Regions from separate parts of the Homo sapiens genome. Here region 2 is linked to region 1. Evidence: fine-mapped expression QTL. Tissue or cell type: whole blood. Region 1 holds a variant in brackets; the other region holds the start of a gene. All regions are shown on one strand. Distances are between the middles of the regions.

Region 1 (8,102 bases):
ACTGACTGGGTGATCTGACCTAGGGACTGTAAAGCAAAACTAGGATTCTAGTAGCTTAAGGGTCATGGCATACAGAATCAAATAATTTCCTTAAAACAATGAAATCATCATAGTAAAATGGCGCCATAACACACCATTCAGAGAAGATTCTGCTCAAGGGCTGTTATATGCCACACTTCTAAATTTAATTTCTGGTGGGACTGTGTGAGTCACTATAGCAAAGAATCTAATGCTATCTTAAAAAGATTTTAAAACCCCAAAGGATTTTGACCTCTCAAGATAACTTCAACAGAGTGAACAAAAAAGTGAGGAAGAAAAGAACCTATCTCACTAAACTTGAAGGCTGTCTCAAGCAAACCTCTCATAAAAAGCTCTACATTCCCACATAATTAACTTCAGGGCCCCAGAGTTAAGGGCTCTATAATCTCATGACCCTCAAAGAAAACCTGGCTCCAGGGCAGCCAGGAATCAAACAGTCTCCTACCCGGATGGGCGGGACTTTGGGCTCCTCTTTAGTGGGCTGTGGCTTTTCGGTGTGAACACTTTCAATTGTGTTACGAAAGGACTGACGATCTTCAAGCCGGGGCTTCTTTTCGGGAAAGGATGCAGAGGCCGCCTGCTCAAAGGATTTCCTCTTCTGATCCTTGGGTTCCTGATCCACAGTTTCCTGAGGCAGGCTAGGAATTCTGTCTGGAGATGCAGAGGCACGTGCCAAGTTGTCTGGCTCAGCCTGGATCCGAGAAGCCACAGACTCAACTGGGAATTCGGGACCCTCCAGGTCGGGTGCTGCAGAGGATGTGCCTGGCAGATGGGGACTGCTCAGCCCTGCTGGGTCAGTCTTAGCCTCCCCATCCTTGTAGAGGGGAACATCTGAGGCCACAGATTTTGCATCCTTAGCAACCCCTGCTTGTTCTGACTCCTGTTTTTTGTACAGATTCCTTCTGGCTCTGGTTCGGAGATCTGGCCGAGAGCGTTTCTTAAAATGCCCATCTCGCTGTCGGGTGGCTGGACCACGCTGTATACGCACTGATTCTCCTGGGACACACAAGCCACTTTTGATTTCAGCCTCCTCCTGGCCCACGTTCTGCTGCAATGACTCTTCTTTGGTCAAACCCAGCCTGCAAATCAAAATCACAGCCATCAGTTTCAGGCCAGAGTGGACATGTCTCTTATTTCTATGAATAATATGGACCCAGAAACACAGATATCTCAGAACAAAATAAATCTGTGTGGTGCACAATCTAACCATGGAAAAACTTCTGTTAGCTTCACTATGAATGGCATTAAGATAAATGACCCAAGTGTCACTGCAATCTCCACATTCTTGTCCAACACATAAGTATATGCTATTTTGAGACCATCTACCTCTATCCCCTCAAAACCCCAGACCAGGACTCATAGCTCCAACTGCCTTACTTCTGTCCATAGTAGTCTTCAAAGAACTTTTCTTTCCATTGTTCCACCTTCTTTTCCTTCTCCATTTCCTGTCGTATCCTGACTTGCATCTCATGAGTAAATTCACCTAGGGAGAAATAAACCTCTTCTAGTAAGTGCATTCGGGATATTAATGTCTGTCTTATGGACAGCTGAATCTCCCAGTTTTAAAACAACACGTCTCTTCTAAAGGCTCTCTCACATCATGCTCTTATAGGGACAGAGCTAACACATCTACTATAAGGGAAATTCACTCTTCCTTAAAGTGAGACCAAGCAACTCCTTGATCGAAAAAGCAAAACAACAAACAAAAGAACCATTCATATTTCCTGTGTAGATAAAAAGTTAACATAGTAGGTAGGCCTGATTGTTTACTCTTAGAAAGGCCTACTTAAAAGAACAGCCCTTGGCTGACATCTGGGAACTTAGATTTCAGGAGGGTTCCCAACCACCCTAACTGATATGAGTTGTTCACTGTGCCTAAATTGTTTATGCAAACAATACGGCTTATGCTGAACACCTGCCTTCCTTTTGGGAATCTGGAAGCTGGGTATGTGCCAAGCAGTGGCTTCCTACATGATCAGCCCTTGATAAAAACCCTGGGCACCGAGTCTTTAACAGGTTTCCCTAGTAGACATTTCATACATGTTATCATAACTTGTTACTGGGGGAATTAAATGTGTCCTGTGTGACACCACTGAGAGAGGACCTTGGAAGCCAACACATGGTTTCCCCTGGACCCCACCCCATGTGCCTCTCCATCTGCTGATTTTACTTTGTATTCTTCTGCTGTAATAAACCGCAGCCCTGTACATATAACTATATGCTGAGTCCTGCTAGCAAATCATCAAACCTAGGGGTGTTCTTAGAGCCCTCTCAACACTTTCCCCACAAAATTAAATTAATAGAAGCTAACAATCACTCCAAGTGACAATGCCTAAAAAGACAGAGCATGGTGGAGCTTCTCAACTCCACAGTGTACTTTCCTCCACCCTTCCAGACCATGCCATGATTACTGGAATAGGTGTTTATAGTTTTAATGATAAAAAGGAGATGATGAATGAGTACATACATACAATATAGTGAAAGTCTAAACCTAAACACCCTGTTATTTCTTCAGAGCTGTGTGGCATATTAATACCCACCACATTTATTAGTAATGAGGAAAGCCTGTCTTATACTAAATAACCCTTTGAGAAGAGCGAGCTTGGGTTTTAAATACCAGGAGACATGCAACACCACACGACAGGTGCGTCGCAAGCCGTCCGAGATGACCAAGTCTACATACCATCAGCCAGGCGCTCCCGCCAGCTCTGAGCCGCATGGGTAAAAAACTCGTTATTTAGTGCACTGCTGCTGAGACGCAACAGGCCATCCGTCCCCACCTAGAAGGATCAAGGGGGAAAAAAATCCTAATAAATAAACTTAAAAGAGAACAGAAGCCCACCCAGAGAGAGGCAAAGGGGAGGCTGCCCATGTGCACCTGTCTGTCTACTTCAGGCAGGAGGAAGAGGAGCTGCTGCTGGAAGTGTGATGGTAAGGCATGGAAGGTCCGAGAGTTGATCAGGGCACGGAGGTTGGTGTTGACAAGAATGGACCCAGGTGTCTCAAAATCTATTTCTTCCCCTCTGTTGCGCTTCATTTGACCTATGATTTTTGAAGCAAGGTATAGATTTCAGCTTTTTAAAAGAAAAAACAAATGCCAACTGATGGGAAAACTTTGGTGACAGCACCCAAGCTACCCAGGAGTTATCTGCACACAATCTGCTCAATTGTCCAGTCCATCCTAACCTGTATATTCTTTCCAGGTTACTGTCATTGCCATCAAACCCAGGAGAACACTTGGGGTTGCATCTCCTCAGACAAAACTCTGTACCGTGCTGTGTCACA[G/A]CCTGAAAAGGACACTTCCCACAGAAAATCAGGCAAGGGGCAGGTTCTGAGCTTCCCTCCAAAGCTGGAGAACAGGCTCCACAAAGCTCAACTGGAGAAATCATGAGAATTATCTAAAAGTAAATCTAGTTAGTATACTATAGAAAAATCTGCAGAAGCCTTCTGTGAATGGGCTGGAGAGGGATGATCTCCATGCAGAAATGTACTAAGGACTGTTCAAAGCCAACTGAGATGCTAATACCTCTCACAGAAGCCTCAGCAAATGTTACTTTTATCTGAAAAACTCACTAGGACTAGAGACCTGTGAGACCTTAGATTGAGCACTGCTGATGAGCTGGAAAAGCAGCAAGACAGCAAACCTAGTTCTCACATGGGCAAAGGTTTACTCTAATTCTCAGAAGCAAAAGCTTGTCTTCTTAATGGTTTCATCTACAAAAAAAACCAGCATGTGGGTCATTAAGAATTAAATCCTGAAATAGCAAAGAGCATACTAATATTGCAAATAACCCTAATGGGGGTGGGGTGGGGTGAGGGGTGGGAGGTATAGATAATAGCACTACTGAATTTGTTTGCATCCCCAAAATTCAACACATGCTTCCACTCAACATACTGACTAGGTTGTAAAAAAGGGAGCGTCTGATACAGACTACAGATGTTGGGAACAAATGTGGCAACATGCTACCGAAGAGAGAAAAGGGGTGTTGGAATTCTTCACTGAGAAGCTCAGAAGCAGTTTTCACTCACTCAAACACTTACTATGCAGTACAAGGCAGGCATAGACTAGGCCTACAGGGACATACGAGAAACAGTATGGCATCATCTCTGCCTGAAAGGAGTTCTCACAGTTTAGCAGAGAGCTACAAATGAAATAAGCAAATTACAAAGTAAAAATAAACAAAAAATAGAGGGCCACCCAAGAAGTAAAAATAAACTGGTAAAGGAATTGGAATAGAAGACATCATCTTCTCACTAGGCCTGCAGGGGCCCCCTTTACAGGCAGAGAAATAAGTGCCACGCCACTCACCTGTGGCTGGCTTCCGGAAGCCTCTCAGGAGCGGGGCAGGGTCCTGGGTGACCTCGGCCTGGCCACGAATAGCAGCGCTGCCCAGGGCCAGAGAGCCGCTGCTGCTGCTGGACGGGCTGCCGCTCTCGCCATCGGCGTGGCAGCCCGAGAACCCTGAAGGCACAGCATTCCACTGGTCAAAAGTATCACCAAGCCGCGCCCATGGCTCTCAGACAAGCTCATTTCTCCCAGCTCTCCCTGAGATGCTGCCAGCAATACTGGGATGCTTCCATCTCCCAGCCTTAGGCTGAGAGAAACCACCACTTCATGGTCTGGCTTTAAAATATCACCTTACAGGTGCCAAACTGCCATCTTTATTTGTATAGCACTACACCTTTTACAAAGCACTGGCATAATCAAATCCTCCGTTGGATCCTCACGACTGCCCTGGGAGACAAAGAGGAAGGCACACAGCAGAGCCCAGCACTAGAACCTATGGCAGGCCTCATCCATTGGCAGGGCTCTTGCCTGTGGCCCGACAGCTCTCCTAGTATCGCACTATTAGGTCAGAAACTGCTGACAGAGGGAGGCCAGGTCCCCAGGACCTGAGGAAAAAGCATCACAACCATGAGTTTACACATACCTGATGCAGATTCCACGTGGGCCCCGTTTACCTTCAGAGGAGTCAGGACAACTCGAGGCAGCATCACCCCAGTCTTTTTCTTTTGTTTGTTCGCCTGCGTTCCAAGAGAGAACAAAAGAGAGCCCAAGTCAACTGCAGAGCCACAAAAGCATTCCCTGGCGACACTATCTCTACTCACGCTCTTGTAAAATGAAGTTCGTCTTCAACCAGATCTGTCAAATAATGCTGACAAGAGCACTGGTTAATGTTACTGAGCTACGTGCTGGTCACTGTGCCAAGCATCATTCCAAGCTACAAAAATGTACTGTTATCCCCATTTTACAGGTAAGGAATTTTCCCCAAGTCTCAAGGCTAGTAAGTGCAGGGTTATCATTCAAACTGCTCACTCCCAATCTCCTGTTCTCTCTACTCTGCACTAACCACACTTCTCCCTGAATGTTCACGTGTATATTACAAGAATGAACAGAATCAGGCTAGGCATGGTGACTCACACCTGTAATCCCAGCACTTTGGGAGGCTGAGGTGGACAGACCACTTGAGGTCAGGAATTCGAGACTAGCCTGGCCAACATGGCAAAACCCTATCTCTACTAAAAATACAAATATTAGCCAGGCACGGTGGTACGTGCCTGTAATCCCAGCTACTCGGGAGGCTGAGGCAGGAGAATTGCTTGAACCCCAGAGGCAGAGGTTGCAGTAAGCGGAGATCATGCCACTGCACTCCAGCCTGAGCGACAGGCGCGACTCCATCTCAAAAAAAAAAAAAAAAAAAAAAAAAAAGAATGAACAAAATCACTCAGCCAAGGTAAAGAAAGAGAAAAAACTTACTCTGCTCAAACCTACTGTTCACTTTTCCTGCGGCCCCCTGTTAAATGCTACTAACAGCTGGAGACCAGACTTCTATTCTTCACTCTCTGAACATGTTCACAGCTCACTACAGGAGAAGGAGGGATCTTGCCTTATACCTGTCATCATTCATCCTCCCAGGCTAGGCTCTACCTCTTCCTTACCTGTGAGGAAGCTCTGTAGCTGTCCCTGGGATTGGAAAGAGGTCGACTCTGAGATTCTGTAGAACAGGATGCGTTCGAAGATGTTTCATCAAGAGATACTGGAAGAGAGGAAAATAAAGGTTAGTCCCTAGTGCCTGCTGTGGCTCCCTCACCCATCCATTAAAGGGTCCTTACCATCGTTTTCACCACTCACAGTGCTGGCTTCATTAGACCCACAGCTCTCCACATCAGCCGTGTCCTCTGGCTCCTCTCCCTCCACTGTAGCTGGATGGCGAGACCACTGCAGGGCATCCTTCTGTGACAGCAAGGTACAACTCAGGTGAACAAAACCCTACAAATTCTTAAAGCAAGGCAGTCATTCCTAAATGTGTATGCTTTTGAAAAAGAGGGATTTAGAATACTGACAAGTTCCTAACCCTTTCTAACTGACCTTTTTCTCAGCAAGTTCTTTTCATAAATATATCATTAAGAAAGTTAGATACACTTTTGCATTCAAACATTCATTAAACATTTATAGGGTGCCTCCTATAAGCTATACCATGTTAGTTCTGGGGAGGGTGGAGTGCTAAGGAGCAGGAATCAAGGCCCTGCTCTCAAGGAGCTCAAATAAGTAGGGGGGTCAATTAAACTGATTACAATACAAAGTACAGTACATAGGTGAACATGGAGAGCCGTGGCAGCCCAGAAGAGGGGCACCTAACTTCAATGAGTTGAGCGAAAGACGGCATGGAGGTGAATAACGATCAGGGAAGTAACACATCCAAAAGGATGTGTTGCTTAAGCTGGGTTTTAAAATAAATTAGCAACTAGACAGACAGGTTGGCAGTAGAGAGATTGTAGGAAGTTTCTAGATAGTGGGATGAGCAAATGTGAAAGAATATTCCAAACTCAGGGAAACTAGGGCTGTGGGGAACTCAATATGCAGGAAGCTAGAGAGGGCACGAGGGCAGATGGTAAGACCCATGTGGAGGGATCAAGAATTTGATTGTTCCGGAGTCACTGAAGAATATTAACTACAGGAATGATTTGAGTTTTCGGAATTTCATCTGGCAACCGCGGGAAGCCTAGAGGCAGGAAGAAGAGGTAGACACTATGAAAGATGTCCAACAAAAAATGCCAAAGATCTAAACCAAAGATTGTGGCTACAGGGCTAGAGTGTAGAGGAGAACTCCATCCCAAATTTCACCTCCTAAGAAAAGCTTCTTCCAATAGACTCACGACATGTAGACTCAGAATTAAACTCTACCCATTCCCAAGAAGAACTTGGGAGTTATCTCACACCTCAAAACTACAAAGAGTGTGGATGAGAATACTGGCAGTTGGAGACAAGAAGAAGATAAGTTGGGGCAGAGGAGGAGAATGTCTTCTTTGAATAAAAGTATGTGAAAAAGAGTTGATAAAGTCATGATTCTGCTAAAAAGGCACCATAAATTTAAAACAGGTGCCCACAACAATCTAACTCATCAATTTCATGAGTCTCTTGATCCACTACATTGAAGTTTCATCAATTTATTTTCATTAGTTTTAGCCAAAATCATGTATCTTAAATTAATAAAAAAGAGGCCAGGTGCAGTGGCTCACTCACACCTGTAATCCCAGCACTTTGGGAGGCTGAGGCAGGTGGATCACGAGGTCAGGAGATTGAGACCATCCTGGCCAACACGGTGAAACCCTGTTTCTACTAAAATACAAAAAATTAGCCAGGTGTGGTGGCACGCGCCTGTAGTACCAGCTACTCGGGAGGCTAAGGCAGGGGAATCACTTGAACCCAGGAGGTGGAGGATGCAGTGAGCTGAGATTACGCCACTGCACTCCAGCCTGGCGACAGAGCAAGACTCCATCTCAAAAAAAAAAAAAAAAAAAAAAAAGAAAGAAAAAAAAGAAAACAGTTTTCTACATCTTTACCTCTTTTCCTTACTGGCCATACATGGTCTTCAGAATCAAAAGCTAAATAATATTTTTAGTTATGCTTATTGACTGCCATGTTCTTGGTATAATAAAACAAATTTAATCTCTCTTCTCTCATGGGCAAACTAAGATAAAATACTCCTTAATGAATTAAGAAAGTCTATTACACTGGCAAAGTTACCCCAAATCTCCAGTTCTGACAAGAGTATGAGAAA
Region 2 (8,102 bases), 71 kb after region 1:
TTTTTTTTAAGAAGCATGACTCAAATAGTAACTACCAATTATTTAAACAGCAATCAGAAATAGCCTGAGAATTTAAGACAGGGGAAACAGAATCTCTAAAGGGAAGTTACATCAAAAGATACAAAGTATTCTTTTTTATTAAAACTGTTTATGCCTCCAGCTCTTGGTATAAGAACAAGTCAGCAGTGTTCTATTCCTAGTCTCTTTCTAGACTACATTTTTTTTTTTAAGTATCTCTTCTCTTACTTCAAAGGGGAAAAAAATGTTTGATGTAAGAACTGGTCAGTCATGAATCAAAGTAAAAGATAAAGCATACAACAAAGAGTTTCTCGAAGCCAGGGAGAATCCATTTAGCGTCCTCGATTTAAAGGGAAATCCCCTTGGCTATTTCTCCCAAACAAACTGTTTATAACAAGTTGGAGGATTTATATCCACTCAACCACATAAGGTCTACTTCTTACACCTAGAAAAGACAATACTACAAAATGTGTGAAAGAAAGACTATTTTTCAACAGCATAATTAACATCTGCAAAAATCAATCTCCTGGGGTACACTATACTGAAATTCTTAAGAATCTTCTTTCCTCTACGAAAGGTTTTTTTGTTGTTGTTGTTTTGTTTGTTTGTTTTTGAGACAGAGTCTTGCTCTGTCGCCCAGGCTGGATGGAGTGCAGTAGCTCGATCTCGGCTCACTGCAAGCTCCGCCTCCCGCGTTCACGCCATTCTCCGGCCTCAGCCTCCCGAGTAGCTGGGACTACAGGCACTCGCCACCACGCCTGGCTAATTTTTTGTATTTTTAGTAGAGATGGGGTTTCACCGTGTTAGCCAGGATGGTCTCGATCTCCTGACCTCGTGATCCGCCCGCCTCGGCCTCCCAAAGTGCTGGGATTACAGGCGTGAGCCACCGCGCACAGCCTACAAAAACAATTTTTAAAAGGATTCCCAGTAACACTCTAGTCACCAATCTGAGTGGGGTCAGGAGCAATCTGAAAGCGTTCCCATGGAAGTGCATACAATTGCCATTGCAAGCACTCCAAATTCACCTGCCCAAAGAGAAGTGTTCAGGTGTTCTAATCAACTGTCCTACGTTCCCTCCTAGTCAAGTTTCTCTCAGTCCAGTGTACGCTCTCACAAATTCTCCAGTACAGTGTTACAGCAACTTTTTTTAAACATTAAGAGGACTGGTTTTTTCTTTTGTTTTGTTTTTGAGACAGAGTCTCACTGTCGCCGCTGGAGTGCAGTGGTGTGATCTGGGTTCACTGCAACCTCCACCTCCCGAGTTCAAGTGATTCTCCTGCCTCAGCCTCCCGAGTAGCTGAGGTTACAGGCATGCACCATCACCATGCCTGGCTAATTTTTGTATTTTTAGTAGAGACGGGGTTTCACCATGTTGGCCAGGCTGGTCTCGAACTTCTGGCCTCAGGTGATCCGTCTGCCTCGGCCTCCCAAAGAGCTGGGATTACAGGCGTGAGCCACCGTGCCCGGCCTGGGACTCTTAAAAAGTTCCCCCTCACCTACCATCCAGTCCCATTCAAAGAAATGGAAAATTCTAAAACAAAAAACACACACAAGATACTCAAATTGCATATCACATTCTCAACAAGTCCTTTTTCTTTTTTTCTTTTTTTTTTTTTTTTGAGACGAGTCTTGCTCTGTCACCCAGGCTGGACAGTGGCATGGCCTTGGCTCTCTGCAACCTCCACCTCCCAAGTTCAAGTGATTCTCCTGTCTCAGCCCCCTCAGTAGCTGGGATTACAGGCGTGCACCACCACACCCGGCTAATTTTTGTATTTTTAGTAGAGACTGGGTTTTACCTTGTTGGCCAAGCTGGTCTAGAACTCCTGACCCTGTGATCCACCCACCTCGGCGTCCCAAAGTGCTGGGATTACAGGCGTGAGCCACAGCGCCCAGCCTCATTATTTTTTTAGAGTCAGGGTCTCCCTCTATCACCCAGGCTGGAGTGCAGTGGTACAATCAATCATTGGGCACTGCAGCCTCCAACTCCTCGGCCTAAGCTATCCTCAGCCTCCTGAGTAGCTAGGACCACAGGTGTGTACCACCATGCCCAGCTCATTTTGTTGCTGTTGTTGTAGAGACCGGGTCTATGTTGCCCAGGCTCATCTCGAATTCCTAGCCTCAAGTGATTATTCCACCTCAGACTCCCAAAGTCTCGCAAATCCTTTTTCACATGTATAACAGCACCACAAAGTAATTCCTACTCATAGGCTGGGCGCGGTGGCTCACGCCTGTAATCCCAGCACTTTGGGAGGCCAAGGTGGGCGGATAACCTAAGGTCACGAGTTCGAGACCAGCCTGACCAGCATGGAAAAACCCCATCTTTACTAAAAATAAAAAATTAGCCGGGTGTGGTGGCAAACAAACGAAAAACAAACAAACAAAGTAATTCCTATTCATATTACTATTTTTAATGAAGAGCCTTAGAAGAAAAAGAGGAATAACTTACCCTGATAACCTGGCTTGAAGTTGAGTCAATGATAAAACAGAAATAGCAACCTCGATGTTGAAGTTCAGACCACGGTAAATTCGAGAATCTAAAGAGACTTAACAGTGGACCCCAAATTCCTAAAGTCAACTAGTAAGAGCCAACAGAACTTTGAGACAAACAGATTTCATAATTCTGTCAAGACATAAATAACACAAGACTTAAAAGTACTTTCACCTACCTCTAACAAGTAAAACTCTGGCAAGCAAATTTCCTTGGGTGCCCAGGGTCATAAACACCCGCATAACAGGAACGCCAAGGAGAATGTCAATGAACACACAAAACTCATTGTCGAGGAGGAGAACGAGAGCTCTCTCCCACTCCCCATCAGGCCTATATTTGTTTCCAGGTGCAGAACCGTTAGAGAAATCCTGAAATTTCTACAAGATCCTGAAAACTAGCCCAAGCTTCCAATTTTGACTCAATCAGAAAAAAAATATTTCGGAACCTCAAAATCTTCAAACTTCACATGCCAGGCCAAAATAAACTGAAGCACAAAACTTCAGCATACAAACAATTGCTATTTTTGTTCCCTGGGCAACAAATGACTAGGGAAGAGGATAGCAAGCACCAATGAAAATTCTGTAGCCCAAATTCCTTCAGTTTTTATAAATCTGTAACTTTTACAGACTTCGAGAAAGAAAAAGGTGTACTTCAGGTTTGTGTCAACCCCCCCAATACAGTCTATTTTTTTTTTTTTTGCACAACACCTTTGAAGCAGAAAACTCACTTCAAAATAAGAGAGAAAATTAAGTCTGAGCTTCACTCATCATTAAAACTGAATTACAACCATTACATATAAACTACAGTGTCAAGAGACACTTATGCTATCCGCACCACAACCTCGCTGTGTGACAGATCTTAGGAACTGACATCTTAGTATAACCTGTTACTACTGGTATCAGCAGATAATTACCCGAATATGTCTCAAAGTGTCTGAGCTTTGTGGGAGTAATCCAAAAGGAAGCTATTTCACCTGCAAGTCCTCTGACGCTCTGAACACAAAATTCACAACCCCCATCGGTTGAACGAGACGGCTTCAAACACTCAAGTTACGCTCTCCCTTGCTAAATCCTCAGTGAACAACGTCTCCCAACAGAGATACTTTGTCTTTGTCCAACATACATTCTTTGCAAAGTGGATTCAGTTCTCCTCAAAATACCAATTTCCAGTCCAGCTTCTGAAGGCAAACAGCCCAGTCTGCGTTTCTCAAAGTGGGGTCCGTGAGCCACTGCGTTTGAATCACCTGGGAAGCTGGTGAAAGCGCAGATTCCCAGGCTCTATCCCAGACCCTGAGGCTCAGCAGGTCTTACGAAGGGCCCTAGGAGTAGCGTTCCTAACCGCCTCCCAGGTGTCGCCCACAGGACACTAAAGTTAGAGAACCGCTGCTCAGGGTTCAAGCTGGGAGTAAGCACTTGCTTCCCTCCACGCACCTGGTTTAGATTGGGAAAGCTCAACATGCCATTGGCGTCCTTGAATGTGGGGTCGCTTTTCCACCCCCGGAGTCAAAGGCACCACCCCATTACCCACCAGGAAGCGAGGGAGGAGCTTCCGACCCTTCCCGGAAACCCAACTCCCCCGGGTGAATGAACGAAGCTGCCCCAGACCCCCAGACGCTGCCAAATAGTGGGGGAGGGGACGCGGGACCCCGCTGCCCAGAGTGGGAGGAGCCGGCCTGCCAGCTCGCCCCTCCGCCGGAATTTAGCTGCGCGGGGCGGGGGGGGCGCGAGGGCGAGCGGAAAAAGGCGCCACATCCCATCCCGGCGGAGCGCTCCCCACCCCTCGCCTTGCGGGGCTGTCCCGTTCTTAAAGGAAGATGGCCCCGCCCCCTCCCGCGGTGGGCAGGGCCTTGCCCCTCCCCCCCCAGTGGGGGGGTGCGCGGCGAGCCCCCCCCACCCCGGGCCCCACGGAGCCCCCCTCGGCTGTCCGCCTCACCAGGCGCGCGGCCTCGGCCCACGTGCGCTCCTTCTTCTTCTTCTGTTTGTCCTTCATCCTTCTCCCCGGCGGCGGCGGCAGCTCCACGCGGGACCTCCGGGCTGGGCGGGCTGGGGCGGTGGCGCGGGGCTGGGGCGGCGGCGGCGGTGGGGGGGGCGCGTGGCAGCGGCGGCGCGCGAGGTCTCGGGTGCGGCCGGGGAGAAGGGGCGGGCACGCGGGGACCGGCTGGCGCGAGAGCGGCGGTGGGGGAGGGGCGGCGGCGGCTCCACGCGCCCGCGCTGCGTCAGTCGCCCACGGCGGCAGCGGCGGCTGCCCCGCGATCGCTAAGGAATGCGGCGGCTCCGCATAACCACGGGGTCAGAGGTCACGGCTCCGGCCTCCGCTTTCCCGCTCTGCTGAGGGACTGAGACAGGACCGACGGCGGGGCGGGAGGGCGAGACGCGGCTTTCCCTTCGGCGCCCGGGTGCGTGCGTGTCTGCCGTGGGTGTGTGTGAGTGTGTGTGAAGAGTGAGGAGGGGGAGTGTGGGGTTTTTTTTTTTTGAACAAAAACAAACCGAAAGGGCGCCTGGGAGTCGTAGTCCCAACGGCCTCTCTGGCCTCCCCCGCTCCGGAAGAATATGGCCGCGTGAAGCGCGTGGACCACACTTCCCGGCGTGCCCGGCGGCCCCCTTCCGCTCTCCCTCTCGCGTCCTCCGCCTAGCACCGACCTCAGCTAGGAACGGGGACGGGTCGCTGTTCGGGGAAGGGGCTGGGTGGAGTCTCGCGAGGTGCGAGAACTGGCTGGGGGCCTGCGGGATTCTGGGAGGCGATGCTGGGAAGGGGCGGTGGCTGGGCTCCCCCGGCCACCCTTAACCCCTTCGGTGCTTTTTGCTTCAGGACCTCCTGGCGGGTGCGGGTGGGGAGTGAGGATGGGGAGCTCGACTCGCAGTTCCCACTTCGTGCTTCTCCTCGCCTAAACGGTTCTTACCTACACTTCTCGTAGGGGACGAGAGGCAGGACTTTCCCTTTTGGTCACCTCTAAATGACTCACTGCCACATAATAATGAGACAAAAAGACCCTCATACCAGTAAAACGGTTATTCCACGGCTGATGGACTTAGACGGTTCTTCATTTCTTCCTGTGCTTTCAGGCCGCTGTGTATTTGCAGAGCCTGCACCAGCAGCCTAGAGCGTTCTTAGGAACTTGGTGATATGTTGACGGGTCGTGTAAAGAACTTGGACTCTGGGGCCATACTGACCAGAATGCACCTGAGGGCGTTTTTAGAGGCAGTACCCTGGAGAGAATTCAGGCCCTGGAGTCCAGCGGACCTAGACTGGAATCTTGGCTGAGTCACTCCCTGGCTGTCCACTCAACCTCTCTGAGCCTCAGTTTTCTGATCTGCATTTGTCTTGTATTTCATGGCATTATTGGAATTAAAATTAACATACAATTCTTGACAGATTGGAAGAGGATGTGAAGGGAGATCTTGACATTATCAGGTCCGTATGATATGGCGCCTGGCATAGAGCAAATGTTTAATAAATGGTAGCTGTTATTACCAGCTGAGAAACAATAGGCAATATACTTAGCCTCTCTGAGCCTTAGTTTTAGAACCTGAAATGAAATTCAGAGCGCCCAGCACATAGGTTTTCTGTAACTATAGGTTCAGTCGTTGTCCAGAAACATTTCTAGAGTCCGTCCGGAGTTGGATTGATGCCAGCTCTTAAAAACTATGAAGGCAGGATCAGTGGCCACATTTAAACGGTTTCCCTGGGTGAGGAAACACACTCTCCACTCCCTAATGTTAACACGTAGCGAGAGCCAGTATTGATAGGAGACCATTATGGTGTAGCCCAAACTCTAACGCCAAGGGGTTCAGTGTTTTCTGCTTCTAATACTGGTCACAGAAAACTTGTGAGTCCGGTAAGCAAAATCCTACAAAGGGAAAAGACTGCAAGTTAGAATAAGACACCTCTTAAAAATCTCTCTAGCTTTACCCTGAGAGAAAGGAGGAACTACTGTCCCTCAAAAAACTGTTTGCCTTGATTTTTTACAAAGGATTTTTAACTTCTTTTTTTTCAATCTACGGCTGATACAGTACTCTTTGGCAAGTCATTTGGCTTCTTTCCGATGTCTTCTGAAGTAGCTTTACTGCCCTCTGACCTACAGGGAATAACTGAAATTTACATGTTTAATACAGGTACTGTGGTAGACAGAATAATGTCTTCCCCGCTTGCCCAAAACTGTCCAAGTCCTAGTCCCTGGAACCTGTGAATATGTTGCTTTTTTATTTATTTATTTATTTATTTTTTGAGACAGAGTCTCGCTGTGTTACCCAGGCTGGAGTGCAGTGGCGTGATCTTGGCTAACTGCAACCTCCGCCTCCTGGGTTCATGCGATCCTCCTGCCTCAGCCTCCCAAGTAGCTGAGATTACAGGCATGCGCTACCATGCCCAGCTAATTTTTGTATCTTTAGTAGTGACTGGGTTTCTCCATGTTGGCCAGGCTGGTCTTGAACTCCTGACCTCAGGTGATCCACCCATCTCGGCCTCCCAAAGTGCTGGGATTACCAGCCAGCATTCTTTGGCAAAAGATATTTTGCCAATGGAAATAAAGCCCTTAAAATTAGATGATTCCGTATTATATGGGTGAGCCCAGTGTAATCACATGAACCCTTAAAAGCACAAAAGGGAGGCAAAAGAGATGTTTTGGAGAGATGAGGCAGAGGAATTAAATTCAAAGTATGAGAGGAATTCAACCCACTGTTACTGGCTTTGAAAGTGGCCACAAGCCAGGGAATCCAGGCAGCCTCCAAAAGCTCAGAGGAAGTCCTGCCAAGAGCCAGCAAGGAAATGGGGACTTCAGTCCTACAACCTCACAGAGCTGAATTCTGACAAGCTGAATGAACTTGGGAACAGATTATACCCCCTCCCCAACTCTCTAGAAAGGAATATAGACACCTTGATTTCAGCCTCGTGAGACTGGAAGCAGAGAATCAGCTGAGCCATGGAATCCAGACGTCGGGCCCACAAGAAGCGTGAAACAGAAATGAATATTGTTTTATGACACTAAATCTGTGGTAACTTCTTACAGCCCCAAAAGAAAGCTAATACAGGCATTATGGAAACACCTTTATTTCTTTCAGCGAACACTGCCTGACTTCAGCTGGGTCAAACCATGGGGGAATCCAGATTTGAATATTTCAAGGTCTCTGCCCTTGCAGAATCAGACAGAAACAAGTGACAACATCGTAGTTAAGTGTGAAAACAGTATGTTCAGAGAACGGTACAGATATGTTAGAAAGTTGGCTTTAGTCATTAAACCTTAAGTAGATGTGATTTTTTTAAAGTTAATGAGATTCATGAGTTTATTTTCTTGTCAGAAGCACCAACAGACAAACCTATACATTTTTGGTGTGTGTTTTTCTGTTTTTTAATCACAGTGCTTTTATTATAGATTATCTTCAGAAGTTAGTGCAGGTGGCATGTGGAAGATAAACAGGACAGACACTCAACCCTGCCTAGTTTGGGGATGAGTCACTTTTCAAACTGCACAGTTATAAGCAAAGTGCATATTCAAGAACCAAGTTAACAGGCCACCAGCAGACACCCAGGAATTCCCAAAGGGACACATATATCCCATAAACTGCACTGCAAGATAATATATTCTCATTGGCTCTGCATG

Evidence for each region. PIP is the estimated chance that this variant, and not a neighbour inherited with it, causes the effect.
Region 2: it holds the start of ASXL1, and the variant in region 1 is fine-mapped to the expression of ASXL1 in whole blood (TOPMed, PIP 0.91).

The regions. Positions count from the first base shown.
Region 1 is chr20:32,426,300-32,434,401 of GRCh38, reverse strand. ASXL1 (ASXL transcriptional regulator 1) reads right to left here. Exons shown (of 13, transcript NM_015338.6): 5 at 6,154-6,274; 6 at 5,980-6,077; 7 at 4,971-5,064; 8 at 4,349-4,501; 9 at 2,918-3,081; 10 at 2,723-2,819; 11 at 1,417-1,522; 12 at 485-1,118. Among named protein-coding and RNA genes, the nearest start is that of ASXL1, 72 kb to the right of the region's middle. The variant G/A (reference allele first, on the strand shown) is at 3,325.
Region 2 is chr20:32,355,169-32,363,270 of GRCh38, reverse strand. ASXL1 (ASXL transcriptional regulator 1) reads right to left here and starts at 4,940. Exons shown (of 13, transcript NM_015338.6): 1 at 4,439-4,940. The coding sequence starts at 4,495. RefSeq lists silencers at 4,241-4,400, 4,641-4,690, 7,639-7,708.